Homo sapiens: one gene and its partners. The protein of the gene in region 3 interacts with the protein of the main gene of each other region in a biochemical or structural test. Each region holds a gene or a part of one and is shown on either strand. Other genes may lie near its edges.

Region 1 (3,500 bases), on a different chromosome or scaffold from region 3:
CAGCCTCTCTGTCACTGGATTTCTTTCTTGCTGCACCTAGGAAGTCCTCACCTTTGCCTCACTTGAACCCTTCCTGCTGCGCACGTCTCTCCATACACAAAGGAGGGAGAGTTTGCTTTAAAATCAGATGGGCACCTGCATCCCCTCCTAGCTGCCCCTTTGCCAGGCTTGAGGGTCCACCCGGGCACCGGGTAGCCAGAGCTGGGATCCAAGGATGGAAACTCAGCTGAGGAGTGAGCGGCTGGGGCAGCCTTGGCTCAAGCAGGGGAGCTGCTGGGAGCCAGCACGTGGCTGCCACCACGTCCCCACGGGAGAAGGAAGAGCCCACTGCTCCACACCCCGGCTGGGGGTCTGGGTGGGGGTCAGGAAGGAGGAAGTGGCTCCCAAGCGGGCAGAGATAAGTGGTGTTTCAGGCCAATAAGGGGTGGTAGGGGCATTTCCAGGCGGAGGAACGTCAGGACAGCTGGGGGGAGTGGGGGGGCAGGCTGGCACCATCACTCTGGACCCCAAGTCACTTGGGCAGGTGGCTTCCTGGAGGAAGCAACACTGGTCCACCAGGCAGCTGAGGGCCAGGTGGTGGATGGAGAGGCCCTGTGGGTTGTGGGCCAGGGTGGCCTGCCCCCCATGGCCCAGGGCTGGGGTCTCTCCTGAGCTACCCATGGATGGAGTTTACCCTGGGATGGAGCCACATCCCAGAAGCCTCAGGAGGGCAGCCAGGGTCCCTGCGTGAGTTTCCTTCTGGCTGTGGGCCTGCTGCCCGTCGAGGGGAGGGCGGCGCCTGCCTCCAAGACTTCATGTTTCACATATGTTTCCCCATGTTCCGTGCAGCTTGCTGGCGGGCACCGTCTTTTCCTTTAAAGAAGCAGCTACACTCCTGTCTGCAGGCTGCCTTGGGGCGGTGCTGGGGCTGGGCGGCAGCCGCTTGCTGGCTCACAGCCAGGAAGCCCCAGGATCCGTCTCCCAAAGAGTCCCTGCCTCATTCCCCGCTGTGGCCTTGGGGATGGTGCTTCGGTGACAGAATGAAGTCACAGCAATGACTCTTTCGGTGGCTGTGTTGCATGAAACTTGCCAGAAAAGTCCCATGGGTCATAGTCCACGCAGGGTGGGGGAGGCCACATAGGCCACCTCCGTGTGGGGGCTTCGGCTGGGTCTGTGCTGTGCCCAGGTTGTGGTCAAATCTAATGGTGGTTGCCACCCGGCTTTCTCCAATCCCTCACGGCCCCGAGCCACACAGCGAAGCTTGGGACTCATCGTCAGGGGCCTGTTCTGGGAGGTGGACGTCAGTGCCGGAGAGAACTCGAATCACAGCCCCGCGCCCTGCTGTTCCCACCCTCCTGACGGTGTCTTCCGTTCCCTCCCCACAGTCAAGGAGAAGCTGCGCCTTGATCCTGACAGCGAGATCGCCACCACCGGTGTGCGGGTGTCCCTCATCTGTCCGGTGAGTCGGGGCGCGGTCCCCTCCTCGAGGCCTCTCCTGCGGCCGGCCTTCCCCCCTGGCGGCCCTGGGCCCGGGGCGGCTTGGCTGGGCCGTGAGCCTGCGGGGGCGAGGCTGGTCTTCGTCCCCTCCGTGTTCCTGAGGCATGAGTGATTGGAGCGAGCCACAGGATGGAGCTGGGGGTGAGGGGCACCGGGCAGGCGGGCACAACAGGAGGGGTGCCCTGCTCACGCAGCCCCTCCCCCACAGCTGGTGAAGATGCGGCTCTCCGTGCCCTGCCGGGCAGAGACCTGTGCCCACCTGCAGTGCTTCGACGCCGTCTTCTACCTGCAGATGAACGAGAAGAAGCCCACCTGGATGTGCCCCGTGTGCGACAAGCCAGCCCCCTACGACCAGCTCATCATCGACGGGTGAGCCCGGGGCCCCGGGGAGGGCGGCCGGAGCCGGACATCCGTGGAGGTCTCGGTGGCACCCCGCTTCCTGCAGACCACATGGTGCCCCAGCAAGACACAGCAGTGGGGGCACATGGTCCTGGAGCTTTGGAAACCCCGGGCTGCGAAAAGAGCCGGTTTCTTTCTCGCGGAACTTCTCAGAGCCTTTGCTATGCAGGTGACAGCCACGTAGCTTAGGTTGCAGAAGGTGGGCTCCGGTCCACCCCGCTCCCACGTGACCTCAGGCAAGTGTGACCCTGAGCTCCAGGAGTGTGGTTTGTGCCACAAAAAACTGAGCCAGGTCGTGCTTTCACACGGCGTTCACCCCAGGACGCGCAGCCTTGGGGGTGACCTCCTCACAGAAAGGCAAAGGAGGTGGCGCCTCCTGGAGCACTCTGGCTACGCCATGCCCTTCCCTTCCTAGGTGGCACAGCTGTGGCCAGGCATTCCCCAGGCCACAGGGGACAGGAGGACAAGACCTTTCTCCCTGGTGGAAGGCTCTGCCCAGGGCTTAAGTTTCCAGAAACTGAGCCCCGTTGTCTGTGGTGCCTGATGCGGCTCCTGCCCGGCGCCGACCGCGCCCACCTCGTCCCCAGAGCCGCCGGCAGGGCGCGAGGCCACAGCGGCACAAGCTGGCGCCCTCACAGGCGGGAGCAGGCCCTGCCTGTGGGGGTGGGCCGGGTCCCCAGCCCTCAGGCATGGCCTCAGCGGACTGTGCAGGTGAAGGCAGGGCTGGCCTGCCTCTGGGGTTGTAGATTTCATCCCCAGGTGGACCTCCGGTTCATGCACTTGTCCCCATCCCAGGAGACAGACCTGTGAGCGTCCTCAGTTTACAGACGAGGAAACAGGCTCAGAGGAGGCAACCAGCAGCTGGAGCTACCCCGGCTCACGGGGCCAGGCTGAGACTTGAACCCAGCCTGAGTCTGGGTCCCCTCTGTGGAGGGCTGGGTGGCCACCCCCTTGCATCCCAGCTTCGGGTAGAGAGAGGAGTCCTTTGGGCCGGGCACGTGGGCTGCCTGAATGGCTGCTCTGTTCCCAGCCTGACAGCTGTGCAGCCGGGTGCCCGCCTTCCCCCACAGGCCCGGAGTGGGGCTTGGGCTTGGGGTGGCGGCAGCTCTCACAGCTCCAGGGCCACCAGGGCTGGGGCAGGCAGCTGTGTCCCATGCAGGCCTTGGCCTCAGCAGCCCATGGGACTCGGTGTAGCCAGGGAGGCTTCCTGGAGGAGGGGTCCTTGGTTCATACTTTGTTCCATGAGCCCTATCACCTCTCTGTCCCTGGCTCTGAGCTGGGTGACCCCAGGGTCCCCAAAAGAGCCCCGTCCCAGACCCTGCCTTCAGAGTCTTGTTCTTGGCCAGGGGAGCGGATAGAGGAGCAGAGCCAGACATAAACGTTCCCGTTGCTGTGTGTGTCTTGGGGAGGAGGAAGAGAAGCTGTGGGGTGGGGCTTTGGAGGGTGAAAAGCAGTTTTGCAAGCAGGGAAGTGGGCAGGCAGGGCTGTGCTACGCCTGGGGCGGCCCTGGCACGGTGGGCTCCGAGCATCGCCTCAGAGAGAGCTCGGCGGGGCGGAGGGGCTGGCCTGGGTGAGAGCCTCAGAAAGGGTGGCCCAGAGTGGGACGAGGGCTCTCCTGTGTGATG
Region 2 (3,500 bases), on a different chromosome or scaffold from region 3:
TTCCCTGGTAGAGTGTGATCATCCATATGGTTCAGCTGGACCTCACTGAGCCCTGACATAAACAAACACTTCCCTGTAAAATGAAAATTCAGTTATTTATTTTTTTTTAGACAGGGTCTCGCTCTGTCACCCAGGCTAGAGTGTAGTGGCACGATCATGGCTCAGTGCAGCCTCGACCACCGAGGCTCAAGCAATCCTCCCACTTCAGCCTCCTGAGTGGCTGGAACCCCAGATGCACACCACCACGCCCAGCTAATTTTTGTATTGTTTGTAGACAGGGTTTCACCATGTTGCCCAGGCTGGTCTTGAATTCCTGGGCTCAAGTGATCTTCCCACCTCAGCCTCCAAAATTGCTGGGATTACAGGTGTGAGCCACAGCGCTTGGATTTAATCATCATAATTATCTTGCAAGATACTATTATTATCTCCTTTTCACAGGGGGTTGAGGCAAATGCCTGCCCAAGAATATATAGCAACTCAGTTTAGGAAACTTTGAGACTATTTTGCTTTACAATTGGTGATACCACCACCTCACACGTAAACATACAGCACTAGACTAACAACATTCAAACACCTTGACAGTGAAGAAAGTCAAAAGTCCAAACTTCCCTTAAAAAGGAATTTTTTAAAATAATAGGGACAATATGTTATTATTAGTTCCAAAACCACATTACTATCAGTTGCCCTAAATGTTTTGAATGTTACTATTAGATAATCAATTTCCTGAGCGTATACTGCATACACTGATCTATTAGGCAGTATAAAATAAGATGATTTATATACAAGACAACTTATATAGAGAAGGCAATGCAACAGTAGTTACGCTTGTTTTTTGTTTGTTTTCTTGTTTGTTTTTGTGATACAGGGTCTAGTTCTGTCACCTAGGCTGGAGTGCAGTGGAGTAATTATGGCTAACTGCAGCCTCAACCTCTCAGGCTCAAGCAATTTTCCCAACCCAGCCTCCGTAGTAGCTGGAACTACAGGTGTGCACCACAGCACTCAGCTAATTTTTTATTTATTTTTTTGTAGAAATGAGATCTTGGTATGTTGTACAGGCTAGTCTCAAACTCCTGGCCTCAAGTGATCCTCCTGCTTTGGCCTCCCAAAGTGTTGGGATTACAGGTGTGAGCCACCAGATCCAGCCAACACTTGGTTTTAAAACTTACTCTAAAAATATGAGTCTTTACTACTATTTTATGCTCTGCTAGAAAATAATCACCAGAAATCTGGGAAAGTTAGTATTATGTCTGCACTGCCACAAAGATGTACTATACTATCGTTACTATGCCTATAGATAACAACTTTTAAAAAATCATTTTTAAAAAGTAATACAACTTGGCTGGGCGTTGTAGCTCACGCCTGTAATCCCAGCACTTTGGGAGGCTGAGGTGGGCAGATCACCTGAGGCCGGGAGTTCGAGACCAGCCTGACCAACATGGAGACACCCCGTCTCTACTAAAAATACAAAATTAACCAGGCGTGGTGGTACATGCCTGTAATCCCAGCTACTAGGGAGGCTGAGGCAGGAGAATCACTTGAACCTGGGAGGTGGAGATTGTGGTGAGCCGAGATCGCGCCATTGCACTCCAGTCTGCGCAAAAAGAGCGAAACTCCATCTCAAAAAAAAAAAAAAAAAAAAAAAAAAGTAGTACAACTCATTAGAAACAATTCAAACAAAAGAGAAAGTACTCTTATTCACATCCCTCCATTCTCATAGACTAAAATGTTAACAGTAACATATCATTTCAAACTCTCTTATTTTCACGTACAGACACACACACAGAACATGAAACACGAATGTGTATTTACAGTCTCTTTCTTTTTAAAAACACAATTGGTTTTTCTGAAAAAACCTGTTAACAAAGATACCTAATTTAAAAGTAAATTAATTTAAAAGGTAACCACTTACAAAAATGGTTTCCAGGTCCAGGGTAATGATGCCCTTTGTAAGCAGCCATTAGTCCCGGGTTTATGCCAATCTATAAAACAAAACAATTAGACATTTCATCTTAAAAAGCAGGACCTAAGCCTTAGCGTTTCTATGGAGGAGTGGTGGACAAAATTGAGTTGATTAAAATACAAATTTAATTCAGCATCATAAGCAATATCATTTATCAATTACTACTCTTGATCTGAACAAAGTATTTCATATATGGGAAAGAGATTTTCTTTATTTTAAAAGTTTTGCTGTTATTTTAAAAAACCAGTTTGACTCCTTTATGATCCCAGGCCTCGCACCCTCACCAACTGGGCTGCTTTGAGTCTGGAAAGACAGGTCCTGGAACAATCAATCTGAGCCCATGTCCAGCCACAATTCTGATTCTCAACTTTCAACAAGAAGCTCGCTCCACATCACCTACACAATTGTTCACATGCTGATGTTTCTTACAGTTACTGAGAAAAATAAGAGCTTAAAATTAGTGCTGCCATGTATCAGGTCTCCACAGGCATCATTCAGTTGAAGTGATTCACATGGATTCTCTCATTTACTTGCAACCCTATCGGGGGGTGGTATTATCACCCCTGGTTTATCAATGAGAAAACCGGTGTTTAGAAAGGTTAATAAGACTTATCCAAGATTATACTTGTGACAGGATTTGAACCCAGACAGTCTAAATTTGGAGCCCACCCTCTTAAACACTCTCATATAACACAACCTCATGAAGCTGACACCATTTACCACCAAAAGGATTCTTAGAAATGGTCCTTTTCAGCAAAATGCTATTTGCAAGGACAACTGTTAAGTAAAGCTGATCCCCCAATACTACTTATAAAATCCAACGAGGACAAAGATCTTACAATGACAATGTCCAGATTGAAGGTCAAAATATCGGGGAGAGTCTTGGTCAGAAGTTCAGCTTCTGAAACACCATTAAAACGGTCTACTTTTCTTTTTACTTTAAATGTGTCTGTAATTTTTTCTTGTTTTTCTTTTGATTTTGCAGACTTGCCAGATTTTTTTGACTCAACAGGTTTTTTGGGTTCCACTGGTTGTTTTGGTTCTGTTGTTCTGGGTTTTCTTTTTCTTCCTTTTGGAGCCTCTGAAATACAAATAATTTCCAGAAATGCAGAAAATCTTAACTTAGAAACTTTAGCAGCTTTCCCAGAAAAGTTACCCAACTAGCACCTTTTGTACCTGTCTCCCCAAAATTAAGCTCTTACAGTCCCAACATGAGTCTCCTCTGCAATATCTTCCCTTTCTTTCTCCCTAGAACTGGGTTCGTGCAACCCCCCATGCCACTCTCCTTCCCCTGCTAGCTGTTCGTGGGAAGAATAATCATAGACTATTATTTTCGACACAGTATTACTTGGCATCTTAACCTCCTCAAGGATACAAAGTATCTACATATCATTTTATATAAATTCTAAATGTAAATACATAAATAATTAAATAAGAACAGAAAAATAGAGAAACAGGAAGGAAGGGAAACATTTTAACTCAACTTCCCCAGTAGAAAACCACAAATGGGCCAGGTATGGTGGCTCATGTCTGTAATCCC
Region 3 (4,126 bases):
CCTCATGCCGGGAACACACTTTCCCTTCCACTAAACAAAGGTGACCGCGTTTCAGAGCTCTCCTCTTACAAGGTTCACGTCCTTCGTTAGGCCGAGGACCGTGGTACTACAAAAGAACATTTCGTTAGCTGAAGTCACTACGATTGGCGAGAAACATCCGTTACTTCAGAATACGTTAACTACAAAATATATTGAATTTCCATATGTATTAACCATATACATGTGTAACTATTACTAAATGTAGTTCAGTCATTACAAAATAAGACATTCTGGGAGCGGGCTACAAATATTCAAACCAGCTGAATTCCCCAGGTAAGGCCCCGTGTTATAAACAAACCACAAACATCAGACGTCAGACCGAGAGCTCAGTGACTGCAGGGTGCGTAGCCGGAAAAGCCAACAAGGCACTGGCACCGCAGAGTCGCTGGAGGGGTGGTGGGGGGCACTGCCGGCTCGGGGGGCCTTTGGAAGTCACCTCTAACTTCGATTCCCAGCCAACAGCGGCTGGAGTCCCACACGGACCTGGAGGGTGCCGAGCTCCCCTTCCCAGGGCCCTGGACCGCCCTCCCTGCATTCTTTGCTCCTTTGGGGAGCCCCGCCCTGCCCTCTTGGGACCCTGCACTTGGGCCACGGGGACCCAGCTCCAGCCACCGGGGGGTGCCAGGGCAGCAGGGCCAGCTCCAGCCCCAAGGCTTGAAACGAAACTGAGGAGGGCCAAGCTCGCTAGGATGGGGAGACTGGGTTGGGAGCCAGAGGTTGGAGGGCTGGGAGCACCGGGCTGTGTCCCCCAGGGCTTCCCATCTCTGTCCACTGTGCCTTCCTGCTGGGAGGTGACCGGCACCCAACTTCCCAGCCAGGCCACTTCCTGCAGTGGCTCAGGCAGCCCCAAGAGGCCTGGCCGGCCCAACCTTTGCAGAGGGCTCAGCGTCAGGACGGCTGCTGAGGCGCACAGCCTCCCCAGGACAGACCACACTCAGGTGGCCTCAGGACGAAGAATTCCAGACACAGGCTGCCCAGGGCCCTCTACCTGGCGCTAAGGGTCGGGGAAGCCCTGGAGGGCCACGGCTGTGGGCTCTCCCAGAAAAAGCACCTGGCGTTTGCCACGGGTGGTAGCAAGGCTGCCTCCTGAGGACACAAGGGACAGACACCTGAGGTGGCACCCTATGCACAGCGCAGCTCCATCCCTGTGACCTGGCCACTGAAGAGGGGAACCCCCGCCAGCAGGCTGCCCGGATAGGAGTCCTCAGGCAGCCCCCAGCCCTGGTCTGGACCTGGCCTTGTGGCCCCCAAGACAGCTGGCACCGGTGCAGTTGCCAGGGTCTCGATGCCAATCCCGACCTATGCAGATCTTAGCTGCCCAGCGCTCTACAGCCCGCAGATGCGGGGAGCACAGAAACCTCAGCAGCACTTTGTACACAGCCCTGTTTACAAAGATCCAGGGCAAGACAGAGCCTCACAGCCTGCGTGCATCCGAAGCAGATGGAGAGCCTGGTCCTGGCCCGCGGTGGGGCTGCAGGTGGGTGGGGAGGGCCGGGCACTGGGAGGCCGCCTCCTCTCACTTTCAATGATAATAATGCAACCAAAACCTTTATATAAACAGTTTATTTACTCTAAACAGCAACACAGACAAAACGCCATATAAACACAAAGGAAGTGGCGCAGAACCGAGATGCTGACCTGGGGTCTGAGGCTCAAAAGCAGCACAGCCCAGGTTCTAGAAGGTTCTAGAGAGGAGCGGCAGGAGGGAGGGTGCATTTCCATACAGCCAGCTGAGGCCAAGTGCAGCTCTGCACGGTGAGAAGCATGCCTGCATCCCAGAGCGAGGAACTCGCCCCTGGGGGACTTACCCAAGTATAAAAGTTTATAATTTTACAGCAGTTGAAATACTGACATCAATATTAAAATAAAAGCGAGTTTTACATAACAATCAAAAATACAAAAGACCGAAGGAAGAGACCCTGTATGGAAACGGGCAATTCAGCGAATCGAGACCGCACACCCGCGGCGGCAATGGAAGATGGCGCCCGCCCAACCCCCCCAGGTGACTAGTCATTGTATGGAGCAACTTTAGATTTGCAAAAATGTTGTAAACAAGTTCTTGCCAAACCAATCCCTTCCTTTTGACGATGCCACAAGGTCGCTGCTTATGAGGGCGCAAACTTCTTGGCTTGTGCTCGGACCCTTTTCTCGTACTCCACTCTGTTTTGGCTGAGGAGGTCAAAAGAGAAGAGACGTGTTAGAGGGCTGAGCTGCCTGGCCCTCACGCTCGCCCCGGAGCCAGCTGGGCAGACCAGGCTGCAGGATGGGACCTCCTGGGGGAGGGCAGTGTGGAGCTCGTCATAGTAACAGAAGCAGAAGCCCGGAGAAGCAGGGAGGCCTGCGTGGTGGGGAGCCCATGCTGGCTCTGACGTGGCTGAGACTGTCCCGTGGTCTGACGGGGGCAGAAGGGCAGGGAGGAGAGGAACCCACGCTGGGTGAACGTGGTGTTCAAGGGGGACAGAGGGGTCCCGCAGGGCTGCGAGGAGGGCTCAGGCCCAGAGGGCCCACGCCAGGGCCTGCAACATCGTTGCCGATGCCAAGTCTGGTCCTAACTAGTAATCAGCAGCTTCTCTTTTCTGTAGGTCTGGGGACAGTCCTAATAAACTGAAAACACTGACTGCTTGCCACTGTTTTTGTTAATTCCCAAAAATAGACACCAATTTCTGGAGGGTTTTTCCATGAGGCTCTCAGCCGCAGGGGCAAAGGTGTGGGAAGGCAGGCCTGGTTGAGAAGGCGTTGTGCCCGAGCTGGGCAGTGCAGGGGCATCAGCGAACAGGTCTGGAGCTGGGTAGAGTGAGGCTCAGCCTGCAAGCAGCTGCCCAGGAGAGTGGCATGGCACACACTGCCCGGGCAAAACAGGTGGGCGGGAGGGCGGCCGAGGCTGCACCTAGGGGCTGATGGGTCACAGGGTGCAGTGTGACCCTGAGGATGGGGGAACACCATGACATTTATGGAGGTGGCTCCTGGGGTCGCAGTCCTGCCAGTCTCGCCAGGATTGGACCTGGTCTGAGACACTGAGCCTCACTCTGCATGGTGGAACAGCCCAGGACGGCAGCAGCGCCGGTGCCACCCCCACCCACGCCAAGGGCCTGGACCGCAGCCCAGACCCCAGCGCCCTCCTTGGGCCACCAGCCGGCCCCAGGGCAGAGCAGCTCAGCTGGGTGGGCGTGGAAGGAACCAGAGGCGGTGGCTACACGTCCCAGCTCTTCCTTGACCAAGCAGAGGCCCCGAGAAAAGGCACCTGCCAGGGCAGGAACACGGTCCAAGGCCTCCAGGAAACCCAGGAAAAACGATCTGAAACCCGCACACATGCTTCACAAAGGGTGCTTTTCAAGCGGATGTGTGTAGGAGAAAGAACGTTTGTTTACGTGCACGCAAGTGTACAGTGCAGCCCAGCAGGCACCAAGCCCAGGAGACGCTGGGGAGAGTCACACGGGGCGGGGGACTGCAACCCTGCCCAGCCCACGCCGCAGATGGGAGCCACAGCCCAGCTCTGGAGATGGTCGGCAAATGGGGTGCAGGCCAGACAGAGCTCACGCCCACACCATGCTGGGGATGGCAGACCATCTAAGGGCTAGGCAGGAAAACATTTGCCTTTTGTTTTGTTTTTTTGAGACAGAGTCTGGCTCTGTTGCCCAGGCTGGAGTGCAGTGGCGTGATCTCGGCTCACTGTAAGCTCCGCCTCCCAGGTTCAAGCCATTCTCCTGCCTCAGCCTCCCGAGTAGCTGGGGTTACAGGTGTGCGCCACCACGCCCGGCTAATTTTTTTTATTTTTACTAGAGATGGGGTTTCACCGTGTTAGCCAGGATGGTCTCAATCTCCTGACCTCGTGATCTGCCCACCTTGGCCTCCCAAAGTGCTGGGATTACAGGCGTGAGCCACCGCGCCCGGCATGCTTTTTTTTTTTTTTTTGAGACAGGGTCTCACTTTGTCACCCAGGCTGCAATCTTGGCTCACTGCAGCATCAACCACCTGGGCTCAAGCAGTCCTCCCACCTCAGCCTCCCAAATAGCTGGGACTACAGGCATGCACCATCATCCCCGGCTTAATTTTTTTTTTTTTTTTTTTTTTAAAGAGAGCAGGTCTT
Region 4 (3,500 bases), on a different chromosome or scaffold from region 3:
TTAAAAGGAAAGAAATTCTAACATAAACTACAGCATGCTAGAACCTTGAGGACATTACATTTAGTGAAATAAGCCAGTCACAAGACAAATACTGTATGATTCCAACGACATGAGGTACTTGGAATAGTCAAAATCATAGACAGTGGAAGTAGAATGGTAACTGCCAGGGGCTAGTGGGAGAGGAGGAGAGGAAGGCTATTGTTTAATGGGTACAGAGTTTCAGCTTCAGAAGATGAAAAGAGTTCTGGAGATGGATGGCAGTGATGGCTGCACAACATTACCAACATACTTAACACCACTCAACTGTACACTTTAAAATGATCAAGATGATACATTTTATATTATGTGTATTTTACAATAAAAGAATTGGAGAAGAAGAAAGATCAAATGATATGAAATAAAGCTTCTATTAGATTTCAGTCATGGTTGCCGAATTTTTATCCGTATATTCAAACATTCGGCATTGATGCCTCAATTTCACTATATTAACAGCACATCATTAATCAATAGTTGAAGGTCTCTCATTTCATTTACTATCTTGTTCAGAAGAAACTGAATTCTCAAACACTTACCTAAACTCGTGGGCTTGATGAGAACATCAAGGACATCATAAAAGGGCAGATTTTTTAACTGCACATCAGGATGGACAGGAGGAATTGGGGGAGATGGCTGCTGCATCTCAAATGTGGGCTTAGTATCTTGAAGCAGCACAGAACCAACAGGAGAGGATGGTGAGTGAGGTGTAACTGAAGTGGAAGGCAACGAGTGGATTCCAGCCACGGCCAAGTCAGGTTCTACAGGTGATGAGCCACCATCCAAACTGAAAACCGATGATTTGATTGTGGATAAATCAGAAAGTCCTTCAAGAGTTCGTGGATATCGGCGTCTATACAATTCTCGGATTTTAATCTGAACCGCAGGGCTGCAGCCGCTCTTCAATAAATGCAGCGCCCTCATCAGGAGGTCATGCTTGCGTCCACTTTTATTCCGTCCAGCAAAGCCTAGTAATACTTGTAGTTCAGAAACCCTAAAACTAGAAACCATATTCTAAAAGGAAAGAAAAAAAAACATAAGCCAAGTCACCCTCAAGCATACAAAAATCCTATCTAAAATATAATGTAAAATGTGATTTTTCCAGCATTCTATCAATTGGCATGTGCTAGTAACAGCATTTCACATACCACTTAGAATCATTACCATTCATAAGACAATCCCGTAAAAATTACATTCAAGTTACGGTGTTAATTATATTTTGTTGTACAAGATCTTAATTTTGGTAATCTATAGTCTATTGGTTTCTACTAACCACTTCATTATCTGATTATGCTCTAATGCAAACAGTTATTTGCTTTATGACTATAAAATCTATCACCAATGAATATACTCCTTTTCAAAACCAACCCCTCCCAATATACAATGTAATGTTTGTTACAGAATTATCGCCAATTAACCAAACAAAAAATCAGATTTTCACAATGTTAGATGTGTAACTTTTGATGCTGAGTAGTAAATCCATAAAAATCAAGTCAGAACTGTGATCCAAAATGCAATGAATTTTTTACCCCAATTCAAACATTAACAAACAAACAACATAATAAAGATATTTTAAAATATTAAAGCTAAAAAATCACATACATCTTATTTAGCAGTCAAACTTCTAAAACAACTGAAATTCCCAGCTGGGTATCCAAATGAGAAAAAGACCTTTGAAGAGCAAGGAAATGAGCAGTCATCAATCTTAAAGGGCAACATTTCCTCCACACTACTCTACTGGCTTGTGCTTGGGCGTAAAACAAAGGTTATAAGCAGTTGCAGCTTCACATCACACCTTCTATTTTTTCAGCAAAACTTAATGAATATTTTTAACCCCTTGCAGCCTCAGGAATCCACCTACTTAGTGATTTCCAGTCAATTCTGAACTCAGAGGCAAATCACACTTGGGTCAGATACCACACATGCATCATCTAGCAAGAAAGAGGAAGAACACCTGGAGCTGACCAAAGCCCTGTCAGAAACCTACCCAGGAGAACTACCTGTGGTTTGGTGTCCCATCCCATCCTCATCACTCCCCCAACCCAGCCCGTGCTACACACTCCACAGTCACTTGGGATTCCTTTTCAACCTGCTTGTCTCATCAGTATAGTGGAAATGTGGGGCAGTTGCTCTGTACTTTTTAAGTCTCAGGGACGGCCCAGAAGCAACTGTTTAAAACCCTATATGGTTTTTAAATACTTGTTGGTATAAATACTTGCTAGTTTACTAAAATGCAAACAGATTTAAATATGCCAAAGTAATCCATATACACTGTCATAACTGTACTTTGTGTACTATATATGTCTCTATATTTCATAATGTACAAGTGAGAGAATATTAAATTGTAATCCTGGCAAGCCATTTTATACTCTAATTCAGTGCTGTCCAACACAAATTAATAGAAGACACACATTAAACCTCCTAGTAGTCACATTAAAAAAACTAATTTAGGCCAGGAACAGTGGCTCACACCTATAATCCCAGTGCTTTTGGAGGCCAACACAAGAGGATCACTTGAGCCCAGGAGTTCGAGACCACACTGGACAACATACTAACACCCCGTCTCCACAAAAATTTAAAAATTAGCCAGCCATGGTGGTGTGTGTGCCTGTGGTCCAAGCCACTCAGGAGACTGAGGCGAGAGGATCACTTGAGCCCAGGAATTTGAGGCTACAGTGAACTGTGATCACACCACCATATTCCAGCCTAGGCAATATTAAGACTGTCTCAAAAATAATAATAATAATAATGATAATTTACATTAACATAGTTATTTAACCCAATATATCAAAACTATCTTTTCATCTCAACATGCAATCAATTTTTGTAATTTAAAAATAATCATTTTTTAAAGTGTCAGTGGGATTTTTTTTATACTAAGTCTTCAATATCTGGTGTATATTTTACACTTACAATACATCTAAATTTGGACTAACCACATTTCAAGTGCTTAAGAGCCACATGTGGCCACTAGCTACCACACTGTGGTAGCTCTAAATCATACTCTAATAGAACACATACCACAATGTGTGTTACCTCTACAGTGCAGACAACAAAGAAGGAAAACAAGAAAACTTTTGGCCTATCTCATAACAAACCAGTCACAGCTTACTCAACATCTCATGCATTAAACAGAAGACAACAGCTTCTTGGGAAGGGTTTACCCAAGCAAGTAATACGATGCATCTTTCCCTCAATCTTAGTAAATACTTCAATTGATTGTGGAACACTAATACTAAAAAAGGCAATCACACAGATAAAACATAACTGATTTTTTCTAACTCAGAATTCACTACTTTGCTTCACTCCTTATACTTATTGTCAGATATTCTTCATTTTAAGGGAAGCTATTTTACAGAAATGACAAAACAAAGCACAAAGTCATCCTACCTAAGCTTGACTCTCAGAGGAATTTCTAGGAGGTCTCATATCTCATATTTCCAGTGATAACATTATTTGGCAAAGGA

Evidence for each region. The genes of interacting proteins can lie anywhere in the genome.
Region 1: the proteins of UBE2I (region 3) and PIAS4 form a complex in vitro, tested with the Homo sapiens proteins (4 studies listed by BioGRID).
Region 2: of the proteins of UBE2I (region 3) and TDG, one has a biochemical effect on the other in vitro, tested with the Homo sapiens proteins (3 studies listed by BioGRID).
Region 4: the proteins of UBE2I (region 3) and PIAS2 form a complex in vitro, tested with the Homo sapiens proteins (3 studies listed by BioGRID).

The regions. Positions count from the first base shown.
Region 1 is NC_000019.10:4,031,736-4,035,235, forward strand, and holds part of PIAS4 (E3 SUMO-protein ligase PIAS4), read left to right. Parts: intron 1-1,364; coding exon 1,365-1,438; intron 1,439-1,684; coding exon 1,685-1,845; intron 1,846-3,500.
Region 2 is NC_000012.12:103,979,372-103,982,871, reverse strand, and holds part of TDG (G/T mismatch-specific thymine DNA glycosylase), read right to left. Parts: intron 3,042-3,500; coding exon 2,800-3,041; intron 2,718-2,799; exon of another isoform or gene 2,245-2,717; intron 1,980-2,244; coding exon 1,910-1,979; intron 74-1,909; coding exon 1-73. UniProt on the Homo sapiens protein: DNA glycosylase that plays a key role in active DNA demethylation: specifically recognizes and binds 5-formylcytosine (5fC) and 5-carboxylcytosine (5caC) in the context of CpG sites and mediates their excision through base-excision repair (BER) to install an unmethylated cytosine.
Region 3 is NC_000016.10:1,322,812-1,326,937, reverse strand, and holds part of UBE2I (SUMO-conjugating enzyme UBC9), read right to left. Parts: exon of another isoform or gene 2,209-4,126; coding exon 2,145-2,208; 3' UTR 1-2,144. UniProt on the Homo sapiens protein: Accepts the ubiquitin-like proteins SUMO1, SUMO2, SUMO3, SUMO4 and SUMO1P1/SUMO5 from the UBLE1A-UBLE1B E1 complex and catalyzes their covalent attachment to other proteins with the help of an E3 ligase such as RANBP2, CBX4 and ZNF451.
Region 4 is NC_000018.10:46,890,008-46,893,507, forward strand, and holds part of PIAS2 (E3 SUMO-protein ligase PIAS2), read right to left. Parts: exon of another isoform or gene 3,424-3,500; intron 1,048-3,423; coding exon 573-1,047; intron 1-572. UniProt on the Homo sapiens protein: Functions as an E3-type small ubiquitin-like modifier (SUMO) ligase, stabilizing the interaction between UBE2I and the substrate, and as a SUMO-tethering factor.